Linked DNA regions of Homo sapiens: regions 2 and 3 are each linked to region 1. Evidence: fine-mapped expression QTL. A gene starts in region 1. Each other region holds a variant in brackets. All regions are shown on one strand. Distances are from middle to middle.

Region 1 (4,241 bases):
AGTAAAGGTTATTTACGCGGGGTGCCAACGCATCTACTTCATTCCTAAACTTTATTTTTTTCATGTAGCTTAATTTTTTCTTTCTTTTTCTTTTTCTTTTTTAGGGACAGGTTTTCGCCATGTAGCCCAGGATAATCTCCCAAACTCCTAGCCTCAAGCAACCACCTGGGCCTCCCAAAGTGTTGGGATTACAGTCTGAGCCACCTCACCTGGCCTAATTGTTGCTTGTAAGGGATGCAGTGTCTCTCTAATCTTGCTTAAGAAATGAATTATCTGTATTTCATTTTTTTTCCTACTGTTTGACCTTTAATTTTTTGTTTTGTTTTGTTTTTGTTTTTGTTTTTGTTTTGAGACAAGGTCTCACCCTGTCGCCCAGGCTGGAGTGCAGTGGTGCAGTCATAGCTCACAGCAACATTGAACTCCTGGGTTTAGAGTGATCCTCCTGCTTCAGCCTGGCTAGTAGCTGGGACTACAGGCGTGGCTATGCACCCGGCTAATTATTTATTTATTTTTTGTTTTCTTTTCTTTTTTTCTTTCTTTTTCTTTTCTTTCTTCCTCTTTTTTTTTTTTTTTTTTTTTAGACAATGTCTCACTCTGTCGCCCAGGCTGGCGTGCAGTGGCGCAATCTCAGCTTACTGAGCCTCTGCCTCCCGGGCTTGGGTGTTTATCCCACCTCATCCGACTGAATAGCTGGGACTACAGGCGCATGCCACCACACCCGGCTATATATATGTTTTTTTTTTTTTTTTTTTTGAGATGGGATTTCACCACATTGGCCAGGCTTATCTCGAACTCCTGGGCTAAAGTGATCCACTTGCCCTGGCCTCCCAAAGTGCTGGGATTACAGGCATGAGCCACTGTGCCCAGCCTTAATTTTTTAAGTTATCATATGCAGATAAAAGAGGCAGAACCAGTTTTAGTATCCAAATCAGTCTGATCCTAAAACCCGTGCTCTAAACCATATTAAACCACCTTTTAAAATTACATCTTAATGAAATAATTTAATGTTACCTCTCCAGCTTTAAGGGTGCCATTAACCACTTAGATTTTGATGTGTCGGATGGAAAACACTCCCCAAACGGGCTATTCTCTGTTTTTTAAAAAAACTGAATTTGCCTATAGACTCAACGGATTCATTCTGCAAGCATTCACTACGTGGCGAAATCGGTGCTGGGCATGGGTGCAAAGACGACCTAGCCCTAGTTGGTGTCTTCAAGAGGCTGCGTCCAGCAGGGGAAGCAGATATGAAAACACAGAACTATTACAAGGGATGAGCGCCGCGCCAAGCCGAACCTGGGAGCTACGGACAGTGTCTAAACTTTAGTCACTCACAGGAGTACAAAGATCCGGGGCTGCTCCTAACTCCTACTCCAAAGCTTTCCTGGCCTGCTGGGCGCACAGGGAAGAGGGAAGTGCTGGAAACTTTTGGGAATGTGTGTTTTCATGTGAAAGAGGGGAATGAAATGTATCCTTCAGATTTCACTTTCTACTTTTCCGGCCACGGGCTCGGCACGACCTGCCGTTGGGAGACGAACGGTTTCCCGAGGTGGGGGGAAGCGCGGATTTGCCGCGGGACTCCGGCTTGGCGCGGAGCTGGGCGCGGCAGGCGCAGGGAGGAACTGGCGAGGTGGCCCGGGCTCGGCCCTCCGAGGGTGTGGAGCGCCCGGGAAACGGGACCCCAAGAATCCAACTGCTCCCACCCTGCGCGGCCAGGAGCGGGGCTGGCGATACTGGGGACACTGTCCAATCCGGGCAGGGGGCGAGGCCGGGGGACCGGGCGGGCCTGGGGAGCAGGCACGTGTGGAGGGCGGACCCGCCGGGGGTCGAGGCCTGCCTCTCCGAGAGCTCCTGGCGCGGCCGTCCCGGCCCGGGGCCCCAGGTGCGCTTCCCCTAGAGAGGGATTTTCCGGTCTCGTGGGCAGAGGAACAACCAGGAACTTGGGCTCAGTCTCCACCCCACAGTGGGGCGGATCCGTCCCGGATAAGACCCGCTGTCTGGCCCTGAGTAGGGTGTGACCTCCGCAGCCGCAGAGGAGGAGCGCAGCCCGGCCTCGGTACGAGGGGTAAAGGGGCTCCGGGCCGGGGGTCCTGGGCTCAGGGAACGGGGAGCGTGGCCCGGGAGCGTCTCGCGGGGATGCCCGGCTCCGCGCTGCACCCCAGAGTGGGTGCTCGCCGCCGGCTTGCGGGCAAGCCCGGGCGGCCACAGGGTGGAGGGGGCCAGCGGGCCCTGGACTCGCTCCGGGTGGGCGAGAGGGAGGCGAGCGCGGTGCTTAACCGCTGGCACCATCCAGGACATCCAGGGCCGCTTACACGGCTCAGGACGCGGGTCAGAGACCACGGCAGTTATTTATTCAGTCCATGTGCTAGGCTTTGCATCAAAAAGAAAGGACCGAGATAATCTTGCCTGTAGCTAACTCCTCCTAACACCTCTTACAGTTTACTTTTTAATTCTTTACTCCATTTAAGAAACTTACTCCTTTCTCCTAGATCCTTACCACTTTCTTACCTTCTCGTGTGTCTAATGCCCTCGGCACAGTGCCCGGCACATCGGAGTCTGATTATTATAGGGTCCATGACTTGAGTTGGCTGGTGGCGCAGTCTCAGCATTTTGTCATGACTTTGACCAGCTGGAGACTTTGGTGCCAAGGAGGAAGGCTTCTCAACCATTTACCGGCAGAAGTGACCCCCGGGGCAATGCAAGTCTTCTGAGCTGACAGAGCAGAGTGGGTCCTGCATAACTCGTGCTTTACATGGAACTGGGCATCTGCTCTCTCCTGCTGACAGTGGGAAGGATAGATAAGGTGTCCCTCTCCAAGTTATCCATTCTCCTGCCCACCAGTCCATGACACCCCACCACCCCCTTCCACTCCCTACTGTTTGCCCTTTAATTTTTTGTTTTGTTTTGTTTTGAGACGAGGTCTCACTCCTGTAGCCCAGGCTGGAGTGCAGTGGCTGGATACAGTTCACTCTGCCTCCCAGGCTCAGGTGTTTCACCCACCTCAACCTCCTGAGTAGCTGAGACTACAGGTGCATGCCACCACGTGCCTATAGTCTCAGCTATTCAGGAGGTAACTGGTAACTCTATTGATAACCAAACCCTAGATTTTTTTTTTTGAGATGGAGTCTTGCTCTGTTGCCCAGGCTGGAGCGCAGTGATATGATCTCTGCTCACTGCAACCTCCGCCTTCTGGGTTCAAGAGATTCTCCTGCCTCAGCCTCCCGAGTAGCTGGGACTACAGGCGTGTGCCAACACGCCTGGCTAATTTTTGTATTTTTAGTAGAGATGGGGTTTTAACATGTTGGTCAGGCTGGTCTTGAACTCCTGACCTCAGGTGATCCACCTGCCTTAGCCTCCCAAAGTGCTGGGATTACAGGCATGAGCCACCGTGCCCAGCGGCCAAACCCTAGGTTTTTAGTTGCCAGGGAATTCTCAGACACAGGTGGAAGAGCAAGTAGGAGAGGAAGTGGACAGGGATAAGAAAACGGATAACCCCATGACCCAAGAGCTGCTGACTCTCCAGAGCCCTATCAGGCCAAGGCCATCCTCATTCAGCTCATGTCAGATTTCTGTTGATTGAAGATAGAGACACAAGTACACCCCTGCCCCCACCCACACATAGACAGGCACAGACACACAACTACTGGATCAAGGGCTTCTGTGAATTTCCCTCCTAGATGTTCTTGCATTTGGTTAGGGATAATGTTTCTCTGCAAGCAATTTAGAGAGTAACCCGCACAGTCAAGCCATGTACCACTCCAGGCCTTGGTGTTTAAAGGGTGAGCCTCCTGGTCATCCCCAGGCTCATGTCCAGTGGCATGTTTCTTTGTTTATGTCCAGCCACTCATTTGTTTTCCTGAGCTCATTTATTATCTGCTTTTAGACTAAGCCTGCTTTTCTCCAAGGGAGATAAAGATGAGTGGCAGGCACTGGGGATTGTGGGCAGTGTGCCAGGGAGTACCTGAAGTTCCAGAATAAACAAGGGGTGGGGAAGCCTGGGCAACATAGCAAGACCCCGTCTCTACAAAAATTTTAAAAATTACTTGGGCATGGTGACACCCACCTGTAGTCCCAGCTACTTGGGAGGCTGGGAGGGAGTTTCACTTAAGCCCAGGAGTTCAAGGCTGCAGTGAGTTATGATCACACCATTGCACTGCAGCCTGGGTAATAGAGTGAGGCCCTGTCTGAAAAACAAACAAACAAACAAACAAAAACAAGAGGAGGAGATTTTCTTTGAGTGTCAT
Region 2 (4,241 bases), 62 kb after region 1:
GTAGAGAGTCTCAAATGTCAGGCTGCAGTGCCTAAAGTAAATCCAGCAGATGATGGGGAGCCATTGTGTATTTCTGAGCAGGGGAGAGACATTGTGAGAGTTTTTCTTTTTACAAAAATGAATCTGGCAAGACTCTGGGAAGACCAACCAGGAGTTAAGAATACTAGTTAGCAGACATCTGCACTTGTCTAAGAAGAAACCCTGAAATCTTGAATTGGAATGGTTGTGATAGGAAATAAAAAGAGTGAAAGAATGCAAAAGAGGCTGTAAAGCAACATTTTGCATGACCGTGGACTTGAATGAAGAGGAAAGGAGAGGGTAAAAAAATCAAAGCTATTGGGCTGGGTGCAGTGGCTCACGCCTGTAATCCCAGCACTTTGGGAGGCCTAGGTGGGCAGAGCACAAGGTCAAAAGATCGAGACCATTCTGGCCAACAAGGTGAAACCCCGTCTCTACTAAAAACACAAAAATTAGCTGGGCGTGGTGGCGTGCACCTGTAGTCCCAGCTACTGGGGAGGCTGAGGCAGGAGAATCGCTTGAACCCGGGAGGCAGAGGTTGCAGTGAGCCGAGATGGCACCACTGCACTACAGACTGGCCACAGAGCAAGACTCTGTCTCAAAAAAAAAAAAAAAAATTGAATCTATTTTGAGGATTTCAGCTTGGCTTGACTGGGGGGAAGAGTGATCCCTTTCACAGAAACAGGGAATGAACAAAAGGTAATGAACCCTCTCTGCCCCTTCCACACCCCCTCCTAGCTGAGAGTGCCAAGGGAGAAATTGATTGTTATATGGATTGTCCTCTCCTTTTTAAAAATAGGAACACGGCTGGGCATGATGGCTCATGCCTGTAATCTCAGCACTTTGGGAGGCTGAGGCAGGTGGATCGCCTGAGGTCAGGAGTTCAAGACCAGCCTGGTCAACATGGTGAAACCCATCTCTAGTAAAAAATACAAAAAAAAATTAGCCAGGCATGGTGGCAGGCACCTGTAATCCCAGCTACTAGGGAGGCTGAGGCAGGAGAATTGCTTGAACCTGGGAGGGAGAGGGAGTGAGCTGGACTGCACTCCAGCCCGGGTGACAGAGCGAAACTCCATCTCAAAAAAAGAAAAAAAAAAAAGGAACAGAAAGTAGGTCCCCAAGGTATGTAAACTTAAAGTTCTATAGCTTCCTCTCCACACCTCACATCTTTTTGCATCTCTAACCTTGCCAAGGATAACTAAAGTTTGGCTGTATTTTTTCATTTCTCCCTGAAATATTTTCAATAGAATCATTTCTGAAACCCATTCCAACCCCCCATACAGCACAAACAACGAGGAAACAGAAGATTCACCAAACATTTATGAACAGCCAGCTGTTATAAAGACAAGGGACCAATCTGAAAAATCAGAATAAAGTCTCCTTGTTAAAGCTGCTGCAAGAAACAGGCAAGCAAAACTTAGAACATTTTTAATTTGTAATTTTTGCTTAAAGTTTTGGTAAGATGTTGTATCATGGTAATTTGTCAGCAGTTCTAAAAGGGAACCATTTGTGTTCAGGAAAGATAGCTTAGAAGTGCAAAACATAGTTCCAGATTTTAAAACACAGTGAATGCAGTAACAGCCAACTTAAACTCTGCAAAATGCCAAATTGGTGAATTAACAGACAAGTTTGAATTGTTTCAAAACTCAGAGGAGATGATAAAAAGATAAAAACAAAAAAAAAGGCAAGAATATGGAAGAGAGAGAGAGGAGATTCAAAAGACATGAAAAGAATTCTAGAGGAGATGGCTGGGCGTGGTGTCTCACACATGTAACCCCAGCACTTTGGGAGGCCGAGGAGGGCAGATCATTTGAGGTCAGGAGCTCAAGACCAGCCTGGTCAACATAGTGAAACCCTGTCTCTACTAAAAACACAAAAATTCGCTGGGGGTGGTGGCACAGCCCTGTAATCCCAGCTACTCAGGAGGCTGAGGCAGGAGAATCGCTTGAACCCAGGAGGCGGAGGTTGCAGTGAGCTGAGATCGCGCCATTGCACTCCAGCCTGGGTGACAGAGTGAGACTTTCTCTCAAAAAAAAAAAAAAAAAAAAAATATTCTAGAGGAGAGAAAAAATTACTCCAGCCAACATTTATTAAATGTTTAGTAAGTGCTAGGCATTTAATTATATTAACACTTGCAGCAGCCTATCGAGGGAAATCACTGTCATCATTCACATTTGCAGATAAGGAAACTAATGTTTAGAAAGTTAACCATTTTCTTCAGTAGTAAACAGCTAATTAAAGGAGAGGCTAAGTCCCGAACCTAGCATCTGTTTCCCAAAAAGTAGACAAACCCTCTGAATAAGGGCCTCTTTTCTTAGAAAGCCCTCTGCATGTGTTTGGGTAACTCCAATGTCCACAGAGGAACCTGCTTTCTCATTCCTCTCTCAAATCACACTTACCTGCTGTCTCCCTTCTTCCCCCAGGCACCGATGAAGACGCCATTATTAGCGTCCTTGCCTACCGCAACACCGCCCAGCGCCAGGAGATCAGGACAGCCTACAAGAGCACCATCGGCAGGGTAGGCCACAGTCTTTCCTGCTCTGTCTGGCTGACTTCGCAGCAACAGGAAGCAGGGCCTCTTCCTGATCTAGGTTCCCGAAGTGACCTTGTGTTTTAAAAGATCGATCCTTTGTCTTGTTTAAAGATGTTCTTGAGGCCAGGTGTGGTGGGTCACACCTGTAATCCCAGCACTTTGGGAG[A/G]CCGAGGTGGGTGGATCACTTGAGGCCAGGAGTTTGAGACCAACCTGGCCAACATGGTGAAACCCCATCTCTCCTTAAAAAATACAAAAATTAGCCGGGCATGGTGCTGAGCACCTGTAATCCTAGCTACTTTGTAGGTTGAGGCAGGAGAATTGCTTGAACCAGGAGGTGGAGGTTGCAGTGAGCCAAGATCATGCCACTTCACTCCAGCCTGGGCAACAGAGACAGACTCCATCTCAAAAAAAAAAAAAAAAAAAAAAAAAAGAATAGCGATTCAGCTCCTTCTTCGTCAATTGATCTTAAACAAGTTCTTAAACTCTCTGACCCATTCCAGGAGGAAATGTGAATAAACATCTTTAGAATTTGGTCCATTTTCCAAATAATTATATTTGGAAACTATATCTCAGGAATTGAGCCTTAAGAAATAGTCATGAATGATCACAAAGATACAACTAAATGCCTTATGTATATAACAGTAGAAAAATAGAAACAGGTGACTAGTTAAAGAAATTAGGCTGGGTGTGGTGGCTCACACCTGTAATCCTAGCACTTTGGGAGGCCGAGGCGAGTGGATCACTTGAGGTCAGGAGTTCGAGACCAGCCTGACCAACATGGTGAAACCCCGTCTCTACTAAAAATACAAAAAAATTAGCTGGGCATGGTGGTGGGCACCTGTAATCCCAGCTACTTGGGAGACTGAGGCAGGAGAATCGCTTGAATCCAGGAGGCGGAGTCTGCAGTGAGTCAAGATCGTGCCACTGCGCTCCAGCCTAGGCAACAGAGCAAGACTCCATCTAAAAAAAAAAAAAAAAGAAATTATGTTGCACCTATCTATAGAAATCTCCACAGCTGCTAAAAAGGTTATCAGTGAATATTGACTTGGAAGTATATTCAAGACATATTGTTAAGTAGGCAAATACATTTACATCGGTGTCTACAAACATATTCACCTCAAAGTTCCTTTACCTCTTAAATTTTTTAGGACTTTTGGTTTTGTGGGTTATATCTTTTGATATTTGCCCTATTAGAAACTAAAACTGAGGGCATTTAAAAATAGATATTTGTTAACTTAGTAAAAATAATAAGTATATTGTATGTTACTGTAAATAACATTTTAATGAAAAATAGCTATATATCCCAAAACGAAAAAACATTTAGTGAGAAGATTGGCATTGTTTTACATTTTGCAGATCTCTTTAATGTCTGGCTTAATGGAAGACAGATGGCTTCTCATATCTATTTCTACTTCAATTTGTTATGATATGTGGTTTTGGTTGGGGTATATGAAGAAAATCTGGCTTGTACAGATATGTACTTGAAAATGGGGGGAGTATTTGAACAGACAGTTGTTGATGCACAGACAATGTCAAATAGCCTTAGGAAAACCCCACTGTATGCTTGTGGAAGAATGACAGTGAAAAGGCAAATAACATCTGAGTGTTATTCTGAGGATAGTTTTGACTTGCAGGCCCCTTGAAAGGGTCTTGGAGACCCCAGACATCCCTGGACCACACCTGGAGAGTA
Region 3 (4,241 bases), 120 kb before region 1:
GTCCTTTCCATGTGGACTTCGACCTCAGCTTAGCCACTTCTCGGGACTTCGCAGAGAAGCCCCGCAGGCCAGAATAGTTCAGTCCTGCTGGGCACTCAGCTGACCTCATGTCACTTGGGCTCTGATCCTTATGAGAGACACAGAGGATGGGAGGCAGGGTATGTTATTTTGCTTTTTAACCCAGTACCATTTAACCAAATGGAAATACCATTCCCATCTATATGACTCAAAAGATAAAGACAGACCACAGTGGAAGATGTTTTAAGAACTGGCCTGAGGAGTTTCTAGAAGAACCTGAAACACGGGATTTCCTGGGAGGACCTCCCCAATCCTCCCTCCTCCTCGCTCCTGGGTCTTGCTTTCTCTCATTTATTTTCTTCATTTCTTCCTTCCCTGTTTCTTTTTGGCTATGAATTTGCTCTTATATGAAAGAAACTGTACTCACACAGAAAGAAAGTGGAAAGCAAGAAACTGTGACAGTCAATCCTACTGCACTGGCTTCAACTCCTATACTTTTACAGCTAAATTCACTTCCCGGACTTGAAAACTTACTGGTGGGAGTTCAATGTCTGCCTTCCCCACTAGACTGTAAGCTCTAGGAGAAAAACACCTATAACTGTTTTGTTCATCATAATTTATGCAGTGCTTTCAACAGTGCCCTCATGACATGGGGCTTAAAATGTGTTTGTGGAATGACAAGTCTATATCAAAGGTTAAATACTAAAATGGTAAATTTTATGTTAAAGCTAAACATAGTGACTGGGCATGGTGGCTCATGCCTGTAATCACAGCACTTTGGGAGGTCAAGGCAGACAAATCATGTGAGCTCAGGAGTTCAAGACCAGCCTGGGCAACACGGCAAAACCCTGTCTGTACTAAAAACTGATTAGTGGGTACCACTTTCCTTTTCGGGCGATGAAAATGTTTTGGAACTAGATAGAGGTAGTGGTTGCACAACATTATGTTTAGTTTTGGTTTCTGGTTTTCTTTTAGAGATGAAGTTTGCTGTTGTCCAGGCTGAGCTTCTGGGCTCAAGTGATCCTCTCACCTCAGCCGCTTGAGTAGCAGGAATCACAGCCACCAGCCACCATGCCCAGCTGCACAACATTGTTAATGTACTAAATGCCACTGAACTGTTCACTTTAAAATGGTTAATTATGTTATGTGAATTTTGCCTCCATTTTAAAAAAAGAACGAAAAGAAAAAGGTGAAATAAACCTGATTTTGCCATTTAACAATAGAGTTCAAAGTAAAGTATATATAAAAAACTATTTTTTTTATGACTTAAGTAACCACCAGAGTACTGATGTTGGGGCCCAGGGTGTAAATCAGGGATTCTCAACCTGGACGCTCATGACTTTGGACTGTATAATTCCCTGTTATGGGGGCCATCCCCATCCCATGCACTACAGGATATTCACCAGCATCCCTGACCTCCATTCGTTTGATGCCTGTAATAGCCCTTTCCTAGGTGTGACAATCAAAAATGTCTCTAGATATTGCCAAGTGTCTCCTGGGGGGCAAAACAGCCACAATTGAGACCTACTGGTCTAAATGGAAAAAGGGCTCTCTAGCAATTATCAAAAATTTCTTCTTTTTCTATCCCTTGTATACCTACCAGTGTGACTCATTGTTTCCTGCCAATCCTACCAGCCACAAATGACCTATCTGTGAACTTCTAGCACCTGGTTATAATGCCCTTTTTCTAACCCCAAGTTCCCCCAAGCCACCCACGAGGGACCTGGACATGCTGCTTTCTGCCTGTGTCACTTGCCAGGCCACAGATTATCCAGGGGCCCTCATCCTATCCCCAGTGTATGGTAACATAGCTCCACTAGCACCTACAAGATAGAAGGATGTCCTTAAGGTATAGGTCAAGGAAAAAGCAAACCTACTGGTTTGACAAGCAGAACAGAGCCTCCCTGTGCCTAGGCCCTCATTCTCTAATCTCAGTCAAGAACAACAAAATTCCAAACCATCACACCACCCCCAAACAGGGTAACAGGTGAAATGAAAGGTTGAAAGCCCCTATCCCTAGAAGATATAAGTGAATTTTCAAGGAATTCAATTATCTCTAACTTTAAGGAACACAATCAATTCACATCGAGTTGCTTTGACATTAATCTTTCAGAAGACCCCACAAGCTTGAGAGGAGAAATGGATTCTAATCCCAATTGAACCTAGCTGTGTAGTTT[C/T]GGACAGGCCATTTAATCCTCTGGGCATAGTTTCTCCTTTGCAAGATCTGTGAGTTAGGCTGTTTGAATTCTAAGTTTAATGCATTAATTTAATACCTACTTCCTAAATACCTACTTATTAAAAGCATACAAAAAGATGAGTGAGAACCTAACCATACCCTCAAGGAGTCCAAGTTGGGTCAGGGATGAAGGGAGAACAGCTTAGAAGACTGATAAATAAATCGTTATTGTAAGATGCAGCAAATCCTAAAGAGGTATGTGCCACATGCTTGAGTGTATGAGAGTGCAAACATCAGGAACAACTAATCACATGTAAAAGAAGTGAACAGACATTCCCAGCAGCACGCTGTGCCTGCTCCTGTGAAGGGATAAAGTGAAGAGCTGGAAGCATTAGGAGTATAGAAGAGGCCACATTTAATGGAGATGCCTCTACTATTTTGGTTTGTTAACACCTAGAAAGAATATACAAGGAATAAACCATTTCCAACTCAAAGATTAGGCTTTTTGGCTGACAGAGTCATACCTCCTCCTTTATCTCGAGGCTGCTGAGCAAAGATTCAGGGAAGTGGTCCTTCATCATTCAGCAACCTCTGAGGTGAAGGGCTTCACTAAGAATTAATCATTAGTCTAGTGATAAAAAAGAACCATGAGGCAACCAACCTGACCAGGAGGGCATAAAAGTGAAAGGTAAGCAGGAGCTCCCAGCAATAAAATACAAAAAGCAAATTCAAAACCAGGTCCTGAAGATGCCTCTACAGCGACCATGCAAGGTCTTTTTTGTCACAAAGCCAAGACCCAAAGGAGAAAAAAGAATTCATGTACACATAAAATTAAATATAAGTAGAGATATAAATAAATATATAATATTCAATATACTAATATATAAGTAAAATACATGCAAAATAAAAATGGGTTCCTTTTAATAAGAGGAAGTTAAGCTGCCAAATAAATGCCATAAATTATAAATACCTAACAATAAAAACAACTTAGCTCCACAATCAAGCCAAAGGATAAATCATCCAACTTGCTCGGTCCTGCTCCTGCACCAGCCAATATCACTTGCATCACTAGCCCTCTGATGCCATATTTTCCTACGCCTCAGTAGCTTAGCGCAGGAGGTCAGAACTTTCCTTGCTCTCCTGAGTTGACTCCAAACCATCACTCCTCCACCCTCATGTAAAAATTCCTGCTCCTTTGAGCTCATGCCACGTGGCTACACTGGCTTCCACCCTGCCTTGCCTTTGTACTTCCCCCTCTGGCTCAGTCTCTAACATTCACGGATGCCTGTAGCATCTTGGCTTCCCTCCACTGCAACTCCTACCATCTTTCTGGGTGGTCTCAAAATCCACTTATTCCTAAACTGCAGCCTCCAGATTTCTTCACGACACTGACCTTTGGTCCTCTCAATGACCTACACATCCATGGCCACCCTCTAGACCTTGTCAACACAAATCTTAAACATCAGTCTCCCCCATTCTGACACACCCTCCAAGACTTCCATTCCCTTAGGCTTTCATTCTGGCCTGACCATCCAGTCCTCCATGCTCTGACTCTTCCATTTTCTTTCAATCAACCAATCAACCCCCTGCTTAGACAGGCTTGTCTCCCCATTCTGGCCCCATGGTTGACCATCTACACTGCTCCTTTGATTTCTGTGCACTCCTAGCCTCCCCTCACACCTCCCCAACCTTGAATCAATGCTAAATCCACCTGCTCTGTTCCTAACCTCAAATCACACAGCCTTACAAGACTGCCTCATGGTGTCCATCCTGGCTTGGGTCCTTTCCTTGTCCTTGGTTAGCTCCCTCTCTCATTCCCCTCGATGACTAACCCAACTCTCAGGAGTATCCTCAGCCCCATACTTACCACTATCCTCGGCAGACAACCTTGCCTCCTTACTCCAGAAAATTGAGGGTATCTGTTATGATTGCCTTCAATTCCCACCCTACCCCCAAGGCTTCCCCACTACAAACTTATCTATATCCATACAGATTCACTCATCTCCTCCTGTCTCAGAGTGTGAAATTTCCCTCTTCTTTCCCAAGG

Direction of the effects. Positions count from the first base shown, and alleles are read on the strand shown. Sizes are in standard deviations (SD) of each study's normalised expression. Not every link is listed here.
For the expression in fetal neocortex of the gene that starts at base 2,012 in region 1, allele C in region 3 goes with a lower level than allele T (moderate effect, 0.45 SD a copy in Walker 2019).

Evidence for each region. PIP is the estimated chance that this variant, and not a neighbour inherited with it, causes the effect. A credible set is the group of variants that fine-mapping cannot tell apart.
Region 2: its variant is the best candidate, but not a certain one, in a credible set for the expression of ANXA4 in whole blood (TOPMed, PIP 0.53).
Region 3: its variant is the best candidate, but not a certain one, in a credible set for the expression of ANXA4 in fetal neocortex (Walker 2019, PIP 0.77).

The regions. Positions count from the first base shown.
Region 1 is chr2:69,740,123-69,744,363 of GRCh38, forward strand. It overlaps ANXA4 (annexin A4), which reads left to right and starts at 2,012. Exons shown (of 13, transcript NM_001153.5): 1 at 2,012-2,053. RefSeq lists silencers at 1,651-1,830, 2,041-2,280.
Region 2 is chr2:69,802,092-69,806,332 of GRCh38, forward strand. ANXA4 (annexin A4) reads left to right here. Exons shown (of 13, transcript NM_001153.5): 4 at 2,442-2,536. Among named protein-coding and RNA genes, the nearest start is that of SMANTIS, 5.2 kb to the left of the region's middle. The variant A/G (reference allele first, on the strand shown) is at 2,718.
Region 3 is chr2:69,615,197-69,619,437 of GRCh38, forward strand. The region is part of intron 2 of AAK1 (AP2 associated kinase 1); the gene reads right to left. Among named protein-coding and RNA genes, the nearest start is that of AAK1, 26 kb to the right of the region's middle. The variant C/T (reference allele first, on the strand shown) is at 2,196.